Homo sapiens: one gene and its partner. The protein of the gene in region 1 interacts with the protein of each later gene in a biochemical or structural test. Each region holds a gene or a part of one and is shown on either strand. Other genes may lie near its edges.

Evidence for each region.
Region 2: the proteins of TOR1AIP2 (region 1) and TOR1A form a complex in vitro, tested with the Homo sapiens proteins (4 studies listed by BioGRID and IntAct, with this or other methods).

Annotation. Positions count from the first base shown.
Region 1 is NC_000001.11:179,874,798-179,882,661, forward strand, and holds the start of TOR1AIP2 (torsin-1A-interacting protein 2), read right to left. Parts: upstream 3,007-7,864; 5' UTR 2,896-3,006; intron 2,577-2,895; 5' UTR 2,442-2,576; intron 1-2,441. Other genes in the region: uncharacterized LOC139427322, read left to right, coding at 7,519-7,596; TOR1AIP1 (torsin-1A-interacting protein 1), read left to right, coding at 7,706-7,864. UniProt on the Homo sapiens protein: Required for endoplasmic reticulum integrity. Regulates the distribution of TOR1A between the endoplasmic reticulum and the nuclear envelope as well as induces TOR1A, TOR1B and TOR3A ATPase activity.
Region 2 is NC_000009.12:129,821,126-129,828,970, forward strand, and holds the start of TOR1A (torsin-1A precursor), read right to left. Parts: upstream 3,012-7,845; 5' UTR 2,961-3,011; coding exon 2,783-2,960; intron 1,722-2,782; coding exon 1,456-1,721; intron 1-1,455. Other genes in the region: splicing factor C9orf78, read right to left, coding at 7,036-7,127. UniProt on the Homo sapiens protein: Protein with chaperone functions important for the control of protein folding, processing, stability and localization as well as for the reduction of misfolded protein aggregates.

The DNA of each region.
Region 1 (7,864 bases):
ACTTTTATACAAAGAAAGTTATAAGTCAGCCTCCAGGATCAAGTCCAATCTACAAATATGACCTAACATCCATAAAGCAAATCTACAAATATAGAACCCAATATAGCACTATCCTCTAAGGTCAGACTGCCTAGACCTGAATGACTGCTCCAGCTTCTGACTTGGTGTTTCTCTCTCTCTCTCTATGCCCTTGGTTTTCTTTGTTTTTTGTTTTGTTTTTGAGATGGAGTCTCGCTCTGTCGCCCAGGCTGGAGTGCAATGGCGCGTACTCAGCTCACTGTAACCTCCGCCTCCCAGGTTCAAATGATTCTCCTGCCTCAAGCCTCCCGAGAAGCTGGGATTACAGGTGCCCGCCACCACGCCCAGCTAATTTCTTTGTATTTTTAGTAGGGACAGGGTTTCACCATGTTGGCCAGGTTGGTCTCAAACTCCTGACCTCAAGTGATCCACCCACCTTGGCCTCCCAAAGTGCTGGGACTATAGGCGTGAGCCACTGCACCCAGCCCCTGGCTAATTTTTTCCTTGGTTTTCTTAATTACAAAATGGAATAATAGTACTTAGATGAAAGAGGCAGTGTGAAGATCAAATGAGATAATGTGCAATACTGGCAACCACAGGGGCACAAAAGAAGTCCTCAAAAACCGTAAATAATTATTATTTGAACTATTAAAGGCAAAACCAGACAGCTTCATTTATATAATTAAAACCCCAGAAGACACCAATGTTTCAAAATTTGACTTTTTCCAAAAATGTCATTACATTTACATGATAGATACTCATGGTCAAGGGCTGAAGGAAAATCTCTAAAAATCAAACAATTTGATTTGTTGAGGTAGTGGAGTTATAGGTGAATTTTCTTCCCAGAAATTTCGATTACCAAAATTATGTGCACAGTTCATACCAGAGCCATGGCACCAAAAAAAAAAAAATCATGTGCCAGCTCCTTTAAATATTAGTAAAGAGGAAAACAGCCCACACAGTAACAAAATAGGAATTCAAACCCAGCTATGACTCCAGTCTATGCTCATTACCAATGTTAGGGACACGCTTCCTTATTCCCAAGTGCTTGATTTCTGTGCAAAATTTATGGTAATATATGATCGCCCTATGAATTCCTTCTTGTAGGACACAGTTTAATCCAGTAGTTCATATGATGTAGAAATATTAATGAAATTTTAACACAATCAAAATTCTAAATGGTAAATAAAACAGCCAATTCTTCATTCTTTAAATTTTTTTGGAAGTTGTCGAATCTCCAAGTTTATGGGCCTTCACAGTTGACTTAGTGAACAACCTCAAAGTGATAAAGCAGACAAGGCTTTTTGAAGCAAACATTCCTTCAGGAAATTCAAGTGGCACTTCAAAGAAGTGTGGACTTTCCTGGAATAGAATTTTGACTTCTGTGTTCCATGGAAATGAATGGAATACAGAAATTACTTCTTAGGCAAAAATAAGTTATATACAAGATACAATACATTATTAAAACACCCAATAATCCTCAAATAATTAGCTACATTCTGAAGTTAATTTATTTATAAATTATTGAAGCTCTCAAGCTAGCATTACCTCTACATTAGGAAAGAAACTAGATAAAATAGTTCTTAAATGAGTCACGCAAGGTTGCGTAACAAACCAGCAGAAAAACAGGTAATCAAGTTGTGGACTGCACGTTCAGCATAATAAACATTACTGAAGACAGGCACTCAGTTTTCATAACAAATGTTAGTTTTTCAAACTATTCTAATCCACACAAAGTCTTCCAAAAACATCTGTAGTTACTCTACCATGAAGTTCCTTTTTTTATTAAATGTTTCCACTGGCCTTTTATATCCTCATCTTGTGCTCAAAAAAAAAAGCTCAAAAAACATGGATAACTGCCACAGCTTAAAACAAAGAAAGGATCTCTCATACAGATCCAAAATAAAATGTGTTAAAACCTAAAGACAGGTAAAACAAAGCCAGTATGTTTAATCTATGTAACTCATTTCTGGATCTGTGTAACAGTATAAAGTCTGATAATTAAGCATTACTCATAAAGTAGAGAGTACTATGAAATTTGTTAAAAGAAGGAAAAGGCACAAACTTTTTCATCAGGTATTAAATACAATTGGGAGAATGGTACATATATAATATGTAAGCAAAATGGTAGGAGGTCTTACTAAAACTTCAACTTTGCCCTTTTTAGCACCAATTTTTTTTTTTTTTAAGTATTATCTTTTCAGGATTAAGATTATGAATGTCGAGAACCTAGGCATGTTGGGAATGGAGTAATCGCCGCCTACACTAGTAGGCAAATTTCCCACTCACATTTCGAACCCTAAAATAATTCGGCTTCTCACCTTAAAGTCTAAACCCAAAAATTTACTCACATCTTAACCCATTTAATATTTATAAGATTCAGTTTCTTTTTATCCCAAAACAAAAATATACCCCCAACCTACCTCGTTTACTGTTTGAGTGAGGCCAGGCGTGGTGGCTCACGCCTGTAATCCCAGCACTTTGGGAGGCTGAGGTGGGAGAATCGCTTGAAGCCAGGAGTTCGAGACCAACCTGGGCAATACAGTGAGACCCTGTCGCTATAAAAATAAAAAATAAAGTAATTAGTAGGGCATGGTGGTGCGGGCCTGTAGTTCCAGCTACTTGGGAGGCTGAGGCGGGAGGATCCCTTGAGCCCAGAAGTATGAGGCTGTGGTGAGCTATGATCACGCCACTGTACTCTAGCCTCGGTGACAGGGCAAGTACCTGTCTCAAAAACAATAAAAATAAAAATACCATTTGTGCGGTACGAAGGTGGGGGTGGGGAGGGACCGTTTCTGAAAGTCCTTTTCAAAAATTCAAGATATCAGTTTCAATACTAAAACATGGAAAAGCTGCATAGTCATTTTGTTTACTTACAAATTCTGGCGAAGTTTTAAATCGTAAAACTGTTAGTATCAGGAGAGCCCTTCGAGTATTCTCTCCGCTCCACACCGCTCGGCTGCACCCAGCGGCCGCCGCGGCCCGAATGTCGTCCAGGGTCCCCGCCCATATGACAAACACTTTCCGCCGGAAGGCGCCCGTGGAATCCTGGGACTAGTAGTCTCCGTGCCCTGCCTTCTGCCTTCTCCATCCTTCACCCTCTACTGCCAGGTCGTCTGACCCAGCGACAGGCGCGGTAAATGCGCGACCAAACCGCAGAGGTCCCATGCAATCTCATGCTGACAGGATTACAGGCATCTCTGTAAGACGTCGACCACCCTGACCTGAAATTCATAGACTGAAGAAACTCATAGGACCAACACAGTGAGCAGCAGTACCAAATGATAATGGCAAGCACCATGTCCTGGAACACACCCTCTGTGCCATTAAGAGGAGCATGTAATCCAATGAGTTGCCTAATCTAAACCTCAGTTTGCTCGTGTGTCAAATGGGGACAACGTTACTTACCTCATAAGTTTGTTATTAGTAGATTAGATGACGTATGCAGCATTTCTGTTAAATGACAGTAGTGACAAAAAATAGCTGTTTTGATCTACTAATTTTATAAATGTGAAAATTAAGAGATGGCGAGCAATTTACCCAAGAACATACAATTTGTTGGGGGAAAAATGAAGTAAGTCTAAAATTCCTGTTCTTGACCTACAGCAATTCAGGACAAATCTAACCAAATTTCAAGAAGAAATCTATTCATGTAAAACTCCCTTCCCCTTTCCTCTTTTTTTTCCCATAACAGTCCTGACCAACACACTATTTTACTTATTTTGATTTTTGCCCGACTCCTCCCATAGAATATAATCTCCAAGAAGGCAGGAAACATTTTTTGTCTTTTAGTCTATTTTGTTCACTGCTGTATCCCCAGCACAGAGAACAGGGACTGCCTACTACACAGTAGCTCAAGTATTTATTGAATTAATAATTCCTCATTTAATGTGATTTTTGGTGCCTTCACTTCTCAATCACCCTCTCTTGGCAGAAGTGACAGGATTTGGTAACACTCTTGGATGGTGTTTAATAATTAACTGCAAGTCCTAATTCAACAAAAAGAATACTATATTCCATTCACTTTATTGTGTTTAATTAATTTCAGTATAACATTTCCAGGAATTTTCATTTGTATTGTCATTAAAATATTTTTCTATCATTTGTAAGACTGGGGAATAAATGGAGCCAGCTACTATGTCTTTAATTAACTTCCTCCTGTTTAATATTTTAATCATCTTTTCCTTATTAAAATTGTTTGCCTACTTCATTTGTACTACTAAGTCACAACGGATAGATTTATCTCTTTAAATAAATGAACTTCTGCTTACCCTAAAGCAAAAAGTTCCTGTACAAAAAATTTATTGTTCTAAAATGTTTCATTTAAAATAATTATTTTGGCCAGGCGTGGTGGCTCACACCTGTAATCCCAGCACTTTGGAAGGCCAAGGCGGATGGATCACCTGAGGTCAGGAGTTCAAGACCAGCCTTGCCAACATGGCAAAATCCATGTCTACTAAAAATACAAAAATTAGCTGGGCATGGTGGCAGGCACCTGTAATCCCAGCTACTCGGGAGGCTGAGGCAGGAGGATCACTTGAACCTGGAGTTGGGGGAGGCTGCAGTAAGCCGAGATTGCACCACTGCACTCCAGCCTAGGCGAAAGAGCGAGACTCCGTCTCTAAATAAATAAATTAATTAAAAATGAAATAAAATAACTGATTTAGGAACCCAGTCTCAAGAGCACAGGATTTCCAGACCTAGCCCTAATAGTTAAGTGTGTGAATTAATGCCATTTAATCTGAATTGTAATTTTTCGTGTTTCTGTCGTTCCCAATAAATGACAAATTCCCTAAAGATAGTCTTCCTCATTGCTGGCACACGTTTGATAAGTAAATGAATTATTAAGTGTATTCTTTGTTTTAATCATTTCTTTTCTTACCGGTCTTCTTTTTTGGGTCACTGAATTCCTCCAGATTTCTCAAATTCCCAAAGTAACTTTAATATCCAGAGCTGAGGCATCCTTTTTTAGTGGCCCAGCGCATCCCTTATAATATTGGCTATGACTCTACTGTCACTGTAATGTCACCTCTTTTCAGCCACTCTTATAGTCTGGATAATAGCTACAGCAGAGTATCTAGTTTCATAACAGTTTAGCTTTGCCTCAGAGCTAGTGATGAAAGTTTCGTATCTGTAAGGTTTCTAGGTGAAGGAGGCAGTCACAGTAGAGGTAGGTTTCCTTATGCTTACAACCTAGATGAGAGGGAAAATCCGATGCATATATATATGTGTGTGTGTGTGTGTGTGTGTGTGTGTGTGTTAGCATTAAAGTTACCATACCTCTAATTTTACAGTAAGTGTCTCATTAATTTAGTTGAAAGGCCATTCCTAAGCCTTTACAAGCAGTTTTAATTACAAAATATGCATATTCTGATTATTCAATAATATGCAGAACCTCTCCTCTGATTGTTCAATATGTAGAATCTCTTGTCTCTTTTTTAATTTGTCCCTCAAACCTAAGTTTTACAAGCCTGTATCCAAGTTTTATAAGCTAGTATCCCAGTTTCTACATAGTCATCTGTCTTGGTAAAATGTTTCAAGGAGACTTTAATGTTCATAATATGAACTCAATATATTACTATAAAATTTATATTTAATAATTAAATCTATTAAGGAACTTATACTATTGTGTTACTAATGAGTAATGTAATAGCCACTTTAAAGAGAAAGCCCTGCTTAAAACATAAATAAAAGCCACGTATTACCATATCAATACTTTTGAGCATTTTGTTGGAAGAGTAAATCTAGCTAATTTCCGAAATATACCATCTAATCCAGACTGACAAGGAAGAGTATCCTTTTCATTTTTCCTTAAAAGACAAGAAGAAAGAAGAAAGAGAGACAGAAAAGAAAGAAAGAAGTCTCTCTTTTGTTACTGCAGTTTTTAAAAGCTATATTGTACATAAAGCTACAGTAAACTAAGCTCCTAACAGGCCAAACCTTATCTCACTCTAAAACTGTAATTCCTCCTGCCTGTGGCCAAATTTATGGACAATATTAGTAAAAACATAGTACACAGTCGGGCAGGGTGGCTCACGCCTGTAATCCCAGCACTTTGGGAGGCCGAGAGGCGGATCACGAGGTCAGGAGATCGAGACCATCCTGGCTAACACGGTGAAACCCTGTCTCTACTAAAAATACAAAAAAATTAGCCGGGCGTGGCGGCATGCGCCTGTAGTCCCAGCTGCTGGGGAGGCTGAAGCAGGAGAATGGCGTGAATCCGGGAGGCAGAGGTTGCAGTGAGCCGAGATCGCGCCACTGGACTCCAGCCTGGGTGACAGAGCAAGACTCCGTCTCAAAAAAAATAAAATAAAAATAAAAATAAAATAAAAACATAGTACACATTACGACTTAAGTAGTTGAAATTTGTGCCAAGTTTGAGCAACAAATGAGTTGCTCAAAAACATTTTAAGGTGATTACTTGGAAGAATAAACAAACACCTTCAAACTTTTCAGAATCGCTCATTGTAACTGGTATCCAAATTACAATTTTTTAAATCTATTCACTCCAATCATACAAAGCCCTACAAGCAGTTGTATATTTGAAGGCAATTTAAGCTTTCTTTCAATAATTATTCAGACTTTACACGAACTTAATCGACCTTCTCTGAATGTGTCTAAATTTGGTTAGGTATTTGCAGATTAGCCACATCTGTAAACATTTGTATAAGGAGGTGAAACAAATAGATTTTACCATGCTTTCTTATTCCATAAAGTCCATAAAGCATTCTAAATCAAATGTAGAGTATCACGTCACATCCAGAATAAAAGTAAAAATAATGGATCACAACTTAAAATTACAGTGCTGTCTTTAATTAAAAAACTTGTTCATTTCTCACTGTGCACAATGTAGCACTAACATGGTCTTCCGAACACTGCTGCTTGGTATAAAACCGAGAAATATTAAAGACCAGGAATAAGGTTATGTGTCCTATGGGTACATTTCGGAAAAGAAAATACATCCAACGAGTATGACTCTAGATAGGATTTTGTACACCCTCAACAAGTGACAAAATTCAAAACTAGGTAACCGCCCTCATAAGGTACTTGAAACTAAAATTTTTGCCACGAAAACATGGCATGTGCAAAAGTTCTCTCTCTGGCCATCACTCCTGCTAAGGACACTGGGAAGGACATGGTCAACGTAGCAGTCGATCAAAAAGATTCCAGGGAAACTGCGCAACAGCCTGGGGCCGAGAAGCGAAACTTGGGTCTTCTCCACCCTCGTCGCACTCCTTTTCCCCGAGACTTGGTACTGGGAGATAGGACGGGAGTCTCCTACACGCAGTCAACACTTGCCACGAGCGGCTAGACTTAGGACAGGCAAGTTGCCCTGCCATCCTTCTATCGCCCCCACCCCTCCTTTACTTAAGGGCGATGGCAGAGACGTCCTCCTCCCCCTTCTCCTCCTCTTTGGTGCCTCCAGCCAGGAGGCGGGAGCGATCCACAGCAGCTGACCCAGCTCAGGCACTGCCTCTCTCACAGCCCTCAAGACACACCATGGGCCCAGAGGCAGGTTTGCTACACAGCAGCGACGACGCAGGCGGCGGCCCCAGCGACTCGCAACTGCCTCCCTGACCACAGCGGCCACCGCCCAACACCCCCGAGAAGCCATCGCCACCACCGGCAGGAGAACCTAGGGTCCATAAAGCCATCTTCGCGATCGACTAAAGCTACGTCAACAACTATGGCGGGCGACGGGCGGCGGGCAGAGGCGGTGCGGGAAGGATGGGGTGTGTACGTCACCCCCAGGGCCCCCATCCGAGAGGGAAGGGGCCGGCTCGCCCCTCAAAATGGCGGCAGCAGCGATGCGCCTGCGTACAGAACTCCTCCGTCGCGCCAGGGC
Region 2 (7,845 bases), on another chromosome or scaffold:
AACCCTGTCTCTATTAAAAATACAAAAATTAGCTGGGTGTGGTGGCAGGTGCCTGTAATACCAGCTACTTGGGAGGCTGAGGCAGCAGAATCACTTGAATCCGGGAGGCAGAGTTTGCGGTGAGCCGAGATCAAGATCCAGATGGTGCTACTGCACTCCAGCCTGGGTGACAAGAATGAAACTCAGTCTCAAAAATAAATAAATAAATAATTGACTGTTTTGCCCATCTTGCAGGTCTGCTACAAGGATCTAAAAGGCAACAGTTAACATTTATTTGTAACATGCACCAGGTACATGTTATGCACTTGACAGACAGAGCTCCCTGGATTGTTACAAGCAACACTTTGTAAGTCAGAATCTGAGTCTCAGGTCAGGCAACTTTCCTAAGACTACGGAGCTGGGAGAGTGTTAGGACTCAAATCCAGATGTGTCTGCTGCCAAAGCCCAAGCTGCTCATCAGTGAGTTCAACCATAAAAGCTGTTTGCGGCTGGGCAAGGTGGCTCACGCCTGTAATCCTAGCACTCTGGGAGGCTGAGGTAGGCAGATCACTTGAGGTCAGGAGTTCGAGACCAGCCTGGCCAATGTGAGGAAACCCCATCTCTACTAGAAATACAAAAATTAGCCGGCTGTGGTGGCACATGCCTGTAGTCACAGCTACTTGGGAGGCTGAGGCAGGAGAATCGCTTGAACCGGGAAGGTGGAGGCTGTAGTGAGCTGAGATGGCGTCACTGCACTCCAGCCTGGACAACAGAGTGAGACCCTGACTCAAAGAAAAAAAAAAAAAGGCAGTTTACAACAGTAGGTTCAACAAACTTAGGACTCTACATGTTTCCTCTTTCACAAAATGAGTGAGATGTGGCCAGGCATGGTGGCTCACGCCTGTAATCCCAGCACTTCGGGAAGCTGAGGCAGGCACATCACCTGAGATCAGGAGTTCGAGACCAGCCTGGCCAAGTTGGCAAAACCCCATCTCTACTAAAAATACAAAAATTAGCTGGGCATGGTGGCAGGACCCTGTAATCCCAGCTACCCGGGAGGCTGAGGCAGGATAATTGCTTCAACCGGGAGGCAGAGGTTGCAGTGAGCTGAGATCATGCCATTGCACTCCAGCCCGGGTAAGAAGAGTGAAACTCCGTCTCAAAATAAAGAAAAAAATAAAAAAATGAGTGAGATGTGTTGATCTCTAAGATGGATTTGATCATGTCCACCTCTAAAATCCCATGACCCTACATACTCACTGGACCGATTTTCAGAACCCACCACAAAGCTTTGATGGTATTAACTGCTCCACGCATCTCAAACTCTTAACTTCTACACCTTTCCAAGGGGAACTGAGACATGAACCGTTTTCCGGGCTCACTCATTTCAACATAGAACTCCCAAATCTCATCCCACAACAAAGAGACCCCAAACCCGATGACATCCAGGAAGGGATTCCAAACTTCCATCCTTGCCTTGTACAAGGTGATGTTTGAAGCATGTGGAAAGTGCAATGTGGCCACAAACAGGTGGACATAGTCACTGTTCAGACCACCCTCGTAAATATTCTCTGCGATGATCTTGCTGACGAAATTTTTGCCGGTGCCTGTCCACCCGTGCAGGGAGAGCGTGAGAGGTTTCTTGGGCTTTGGGTTGTTTATGAAACCAAACACGGCATTTAAGATGATTTTCTTTGCAAGATGCTGTCCAAAGAGGTTGTCGTCCAGATCCTTCTGCAGTGCTGGGAAAGACAAAGCCAATCAGGAGTGGGGAAGAAACAGCGGCAAAATGTAGCCACATTTACAGCCCATAAGAAAGCCAGCAAAGCCGTCTAGACGCCCTCCAAGCACCTTGCGAAACCTCAAGTACTGCGGTCTGTAAGCTCCTGGCCCAGAGGGGACGGCGGTCCAGGGAGCCCTCCCTTTGCTGGTCCTGCCTATTCTAAAGCCCTGGCCCGACTCCTTCCCGAAAAGCCCCTTGGTGCCACTGCCACTGCCACCAGTTTGCACCCCTAACCCCTGTGCTGCTCCTCCCACCCCAAGGCAGAGCCGGGAAAGGAAACAGTTTGGTCCCTCCTGGTCGGCTGCGGAAGAGTCCTCACCATCCTTCCTGTCTCCCGCTAGGCTAGAAAGGAGGCAGAACCCACTTCGGAGGGAGGTTACCACTGGTCCACCCCCAGCTTAGCGCAAAGTAGGCCAACCTGCAGCCTGGCTCCTCAGGTCTCCGACTTAAGTCTGGCACGTCTGTGGTCATGGCCGAGGAGCCAGGCCTCATCCTGCAGGCCGGCCGCTTGGCTTCCGGGGTCCGGCCCCCGCGGACTCAGCTCTGCCCAGGCCCGGCCCTCCTGGGATGTGACCCCTACCCCGGCCTGGCCCTAGTGCCATCCCCCAGCCCCAGCCCCAGCCCCAGCCCCCGCTCCTGAGCCCCAGCCCCCAAACTCCGCTCCAGCCCCAGTCCTAGCCCGGCCCTACTGCCATCCCCCAGCCTCCATCCACCATCCTCAATCCCCTAGCCCCAGCCAACCGCCCTGGTCTTAACCCAGCCCTAGTGCGATCCCCCAGCCCCACCCCCAGCCCCCGGGCCCCGCTCCATCCCCCAGCCCCAGCCCCAGCCCCAACCCGGCCCTAGTGCCATCGCCCAGCCCCAGCCCCCAGGCCCCGCTCCAGCCCTAGTCCTAGCCCGGCCCTGGTGCCATCCCCCGGCCTCCATCCTCCATTCTCCATGCCCTGGTCCTAGTTCAGCCCTAGTGCCATCGCCCAGCCCCAGCCCCAGCCCCAGCCTCCAGCCCCCGCCCCAGCCTACCCTCCCGGCTAAGGCTCCGCTTCTGCCCGCAGCACTCGGCGAAGAGGCAGTAGAGACGCGGGTAGATGTAGCCGGTGAGGACGCCGGCCAGGGCCAGTCCCAGGCTGATGGGCTCCACCGCCTGCACCACGGACGGCGCCAGCAGCAGCAGGCCCAGCACGGCCCGGCCCAGCTTCATGCCCGGACCCGCGCCACCCTGCTTGTTCTCGCGCCGACCGCGAACCGGTGCAGCCGCCAGACCCACGCTTCCGGTTCCTCCTCTCGCGGAGGCCATCTTTCTTCAGGGCAGCCCTCCTCCCGACGCCGGCGGCCGCCATCTTTGTTCGGTACAAAGCCCTGTTTTGCTTCCGGAAACTCGGTTCTGCTCCGCCCCTGTTGGCCACGTGTTTTTGTTTATGGACGTTATTTTTGCCAGGCATGGTGGCTCCTGCCTGTAATCCCAGCCCTTTGGGAGGCTGAGGCGGGCGGATCACCTGAGGTCAGGAGTTCGAGACCAGCCTGACCAACATGGTGAAACCACGTCTCTACTAAAAATATAAAATTAGCCGGGTGTGGTGGTAGGCACCTGTAGCCCTAGCTACTGGGGAGGCTGACACATGAGAATCGCTTGAACCCAGGAGGCGGAGATTGCAGTGAGCCGAGATCTCACCACTGCACTCCAGCCTGGGAGACAGAGCAAGACTGTGTCCCCTCCCCGCAAATAATAATAATAATAATAATAATAATAACGGACGTTATTTTTTAGAACAGATTTACAGAAAAATTGAGAAGATAGTAGAGAGTTCCCATGTGCCACCCATCCCTGCAATTTCCCCTATTACTAAAATCTTACATTATTAGTGTGCTACATTTGTTAAAATTAACGATGCACTGTTGTCATATTAACTAAAGTGTAGTTTATTCAGATTTCCTTCCTTTTACTTAATGCCTTTTTCTGCTGCAGGTTTCCATTCAGGATACCACATTATATTTCGTTGTCATGTCTTAGACTACTGTTAATGACAGTGTCTCAGCCTTTTATTTTTATTTTAGCTGGAGTGCAGTGGCATGATCTCAGCTCACTGCAACCTCTGCCTCCCAGGTTCAAGCGATTCTCCTGTCTCAGCCTCCTGAGCAGCTGGGATTACAGGCACACACCACCATGCCCGGCTAATTTTTGTATTTTTGGTAGAGACGGGGTTTCACCATGTTGGCCAGGATGGTCTTGATCTGACCTCATGATCTGCCCGTCTCAGCCTCCCAAAGTGCTGGGATTACAGGCGTGAGCCACCGCGCCTGGCCTCAGCTTTTTATTTTTGATGACCTTGATAGTTTTGAGGAGTACTGGCCAAATCTTTGGTGGGCTGGCCCTCTATTGGGATTTGATGTTTTTCTCAGGATTAGACAAGCGTTATGGCGTTTTGGAAGGAAGATCACAGAGGTAAAGTGCTATGCTCATCACATCCTACCAAGGAAGGGTTCTTACTGTTCAACGTTACTTACCACTGTTGGTGCTGACTTGATCACTTGACTGAAGTAGTGTTTGTCAGGTCCCCCCACCCCTCTTTTCTCTACTGTACTCTTTGGAAGGACGTCCCCATGCACAGCCCACACGTAAGGAGTCGGGGATTTTGCTCCACCTCCTTGGGGGCAGAGTATCTACAGAAATTATTTGGAATTCTGCATGGGAGATTTGTTTCTTCTCCCCCATGTATTCAATCATTTATATCAGTGTGGACCATTGTTATTTTATCCTTTGTTATACTACAGTACTAATTTTTTTTTCAAATTGTTCTCATTTTGGCCACTGGGAATTTGAGTGGTTCCTTGTGCTCCTTTGACATACACCCAGTGTATATACCAGCTTATTTGGGTTTGAGTGCCTCTTTCCTTTCTGACACTACAGGATACTCCGGGCTCATCTTGTATTTCCTGCCCCAGTCCTAGAATCCTATTTTCTACGAGGAACCCTGATTCCTTTCATTGTAAAATGGCATTAGAAACTGGCTGGGCATGGTGGCTCATGCCTGTAATCCAGCATTTTGGGAGGCTGAGGCAGGTGCATCACCTGAGGTCAGGAGTTTGGGACCAGCCTGACCAATATGGTGAAACCCCATCTCTACTGAAAATACAAAAAAATTAGCTAGGCATGGTTGCGTGTGCCTGTAGTCTCAGCTACATGGGAGGCTGAAACAGGAGAATTCCTTGAACTTGGGAGGTGGAGGTTGCAGTGAGCCGAGATCGCACCACTGCACTCCAGCCTGGGTGACAGAGCGAGACTTCGTATCAAAAAAAAAAAAAAAAAAAAAAAAGAGAAACCAAGGTCTGGGTGCTAGGTGTGCTTCTTGCTATTGAGATGTCATTTCTTTCAGTCTCAGCTGACAGAAAAAAATGTGTGTATATACTGTTAAACACACACATATCTATAAATATTTTTATAGGTAAACATCTGTACCTATATTAAGCTAAACATGAGCTCGTGCTGACATCTCCAACTCTAATCCATTACACAGATCATTGGAGCCTCCTCCCCTTGTTTATCTGTGAATTCCCACCCCAACAGTGAGAGAACCAGCTCCCTCCATCTGGCAGCCACTTTTAAGCTGGATAAAAGATTACTCATTTTCTAGCAAAGGGAACTCTGGCAAGTGAGAACTGTTGACCATCCACTTATTTGCCTGTTCATCCCATAAACACGTGTTGCGTTGCTGTGTGCCAGATGTGCTAGGCCTTTAGTATTCATCTTGGGTTACCCCTGCACATCGCTGGGACCTGTAAATGTTTGTTGAAATATCCTGAAAATATTTTTTAAGTTTCGACTTTTTCGTATTGGATTTAAAATACTTTTGTGCACCTGTTACAAGCCAAACACTATAGGGATCATTCATAGTTTTGAGGACTGCCTATCTGTCAGATTATGGGCTATGCCCTGGGGATTCAAATTTAAAAATTAGGCACACATGGTTCCTGCCTTCACTGACCATATTCAAGTGGAGGAAAAAAAAAAATCTCCATTTTACAGATGAGAAAACTGAGGCTAAGAGTGAAAAGGATCTGTCCAAGGACACAAGTAGTAAGCTGCGAGGTGGGCTCAGATCTGACTCCTGGGCCAAACCACTGTAACCACAATACCTGCTCTAAATCCACCCAGAAGTCAGCCAATCTGCTCTTTCCTCTTTTGGACCCCTGTGGATGCCTCAGGAAAAATGAGGGCACAGGTAAGAAGGTACTTGACAGCAGGTTGCAGCATGTCTATGCTGCAGTGGTCCAATCATAGCTCACTGTTTGAAATAAATGAGAAAATCCATCTCAGTAATTCAGTTTTACATTTAGGCTACCCAAACCATGGGCTTTAAAAACATTACCTGATGCTGGTATAAGAAACATAATACAAACAATAAGGTTGGATTCATTTTGAAATTTAATAATTCTAATAGTAATAAGAAACATAGTTTATGCTTTTTTTTTAATGAAAACAAACAAGTAATTTTGTAAAAGTCAGAAAACACCAGTATCCTTCTGATCTCATCCTGGATTTTTCTGTCAGCTGGAGGATGCATTTCTGACCCCATCCCAGACACGTGAAAGCAGAAGACATGATGCATCTATAATAATGAAAGCACAATCTAAAGAGTATTATCACACCGTGAACAGCTTCTTCCTGACCCAGAGCAAATATTAAGAGAAAGACAATATATTTACAAACAAGATTTAATAATGCTCACAAGAATAGAGTTTGCCCCCAAATGGAAAATTACACATTATTTTGTTTCAAAAAGTTATAAATTTAGTGCTTGAAAAATCCAGCAGGTAAGTAGAAGGACTAACAGGGTCTGTTTCTGGAACTGTCCGCCAGCAAATGAGCATGCTCTGTCCTGGAAGCCATTTTTCTTTTTCTTTTTTTTTTTTTTTTTTTTTTTTGAGACAGAGTTTTTTGCTCGTTGCCCAGGCTGGAGTACAAAGGTGCAATCTCGGCTCACCACAACCTCCGCCTCTTGGGTTCAAGCAATTCTCCTGCCTCAGCCTCCTGAGCAGCTGGGATTACAGGCATGTGCCACCACGCCTGGCTAACTTTTCTGTATTTTCAGTAGAGACTGGGTTTCTCCATGTTGGTCAGGCTGGTCTCAAACTCCCGACCTCAGGTGATCCGCCCACCTCGGCCTCCCAAAGTGCTGGGATTACAGGCAGGAGCCACCACGCCCGGCCAGGAAGCCATTTTTCATGGGAGGGATATAGGGAGAGGAAGGCGATATTTACATCCCACTCTGCACAACTCAGTACCGCCTATTCATTTTCTTGAACTTCTCATAATGATAGTCATCAGTTGCCTTCTCGTTAGCAGGACGCTTGCGGTTAGGAGGGGACCCTGAGAAGGAAAAGAACAGGAAAGGTGGTTTGCCATGCTGGAACCCACTGCTAGACTTTACTCCATGCAGGCAAAGACAACTGCCTGTTTCCTTCCCCACAGGAGCCCCAGCGCCTAACCCAGTGAACACAGTAGGGCCTCAGTAGATACGTATTTGTCTTTTTTTTTTTCTTTTCTTTTCTTTTTTTTGAGATGGAGTCTCACCCTGTTGCCCAGGCTAGAGTGTAATGGCATGATCTCAGCTCACTGCAACCTCCAACTCCCGAGTTCAAGTGATTCTCCTGCCTCAGCCTCCTGAGTAGCTGGGATTACAGGCACCTGCCACCTCACCTGGCTAATTTTTGTATTTTTAGTAGAGACGGGGTTCACCATGTTGGCCAGGCTCGTCTTGAACTCCTGACCTTAGGTGATCTGCCTGCCTCTGCCTCCCAAAGTGCTGGGATTACAGGCATGGGCCACCGAGCATGGCCAATACCTTTTTCTTTTCTTTAAAAAAAAGATGTGGTCTCACTCTGTCACGCAGGCTAGAGTGCAGTGGTCCAATCATAGCTCACTGCAGCCTTGAACTCTTAGTCTCAAGCAATCCTCCTGTCCCAGCTTCCCCAGCAGCTGAGACTACAAGTGTGAGGCACTGCACCCAGCTAACCTTATGAGTAGCTTTTATTTGTCCTTACTGAAATTTTCTAACTTCTTGAGTCTCTACTGTGCGTGAGAATAT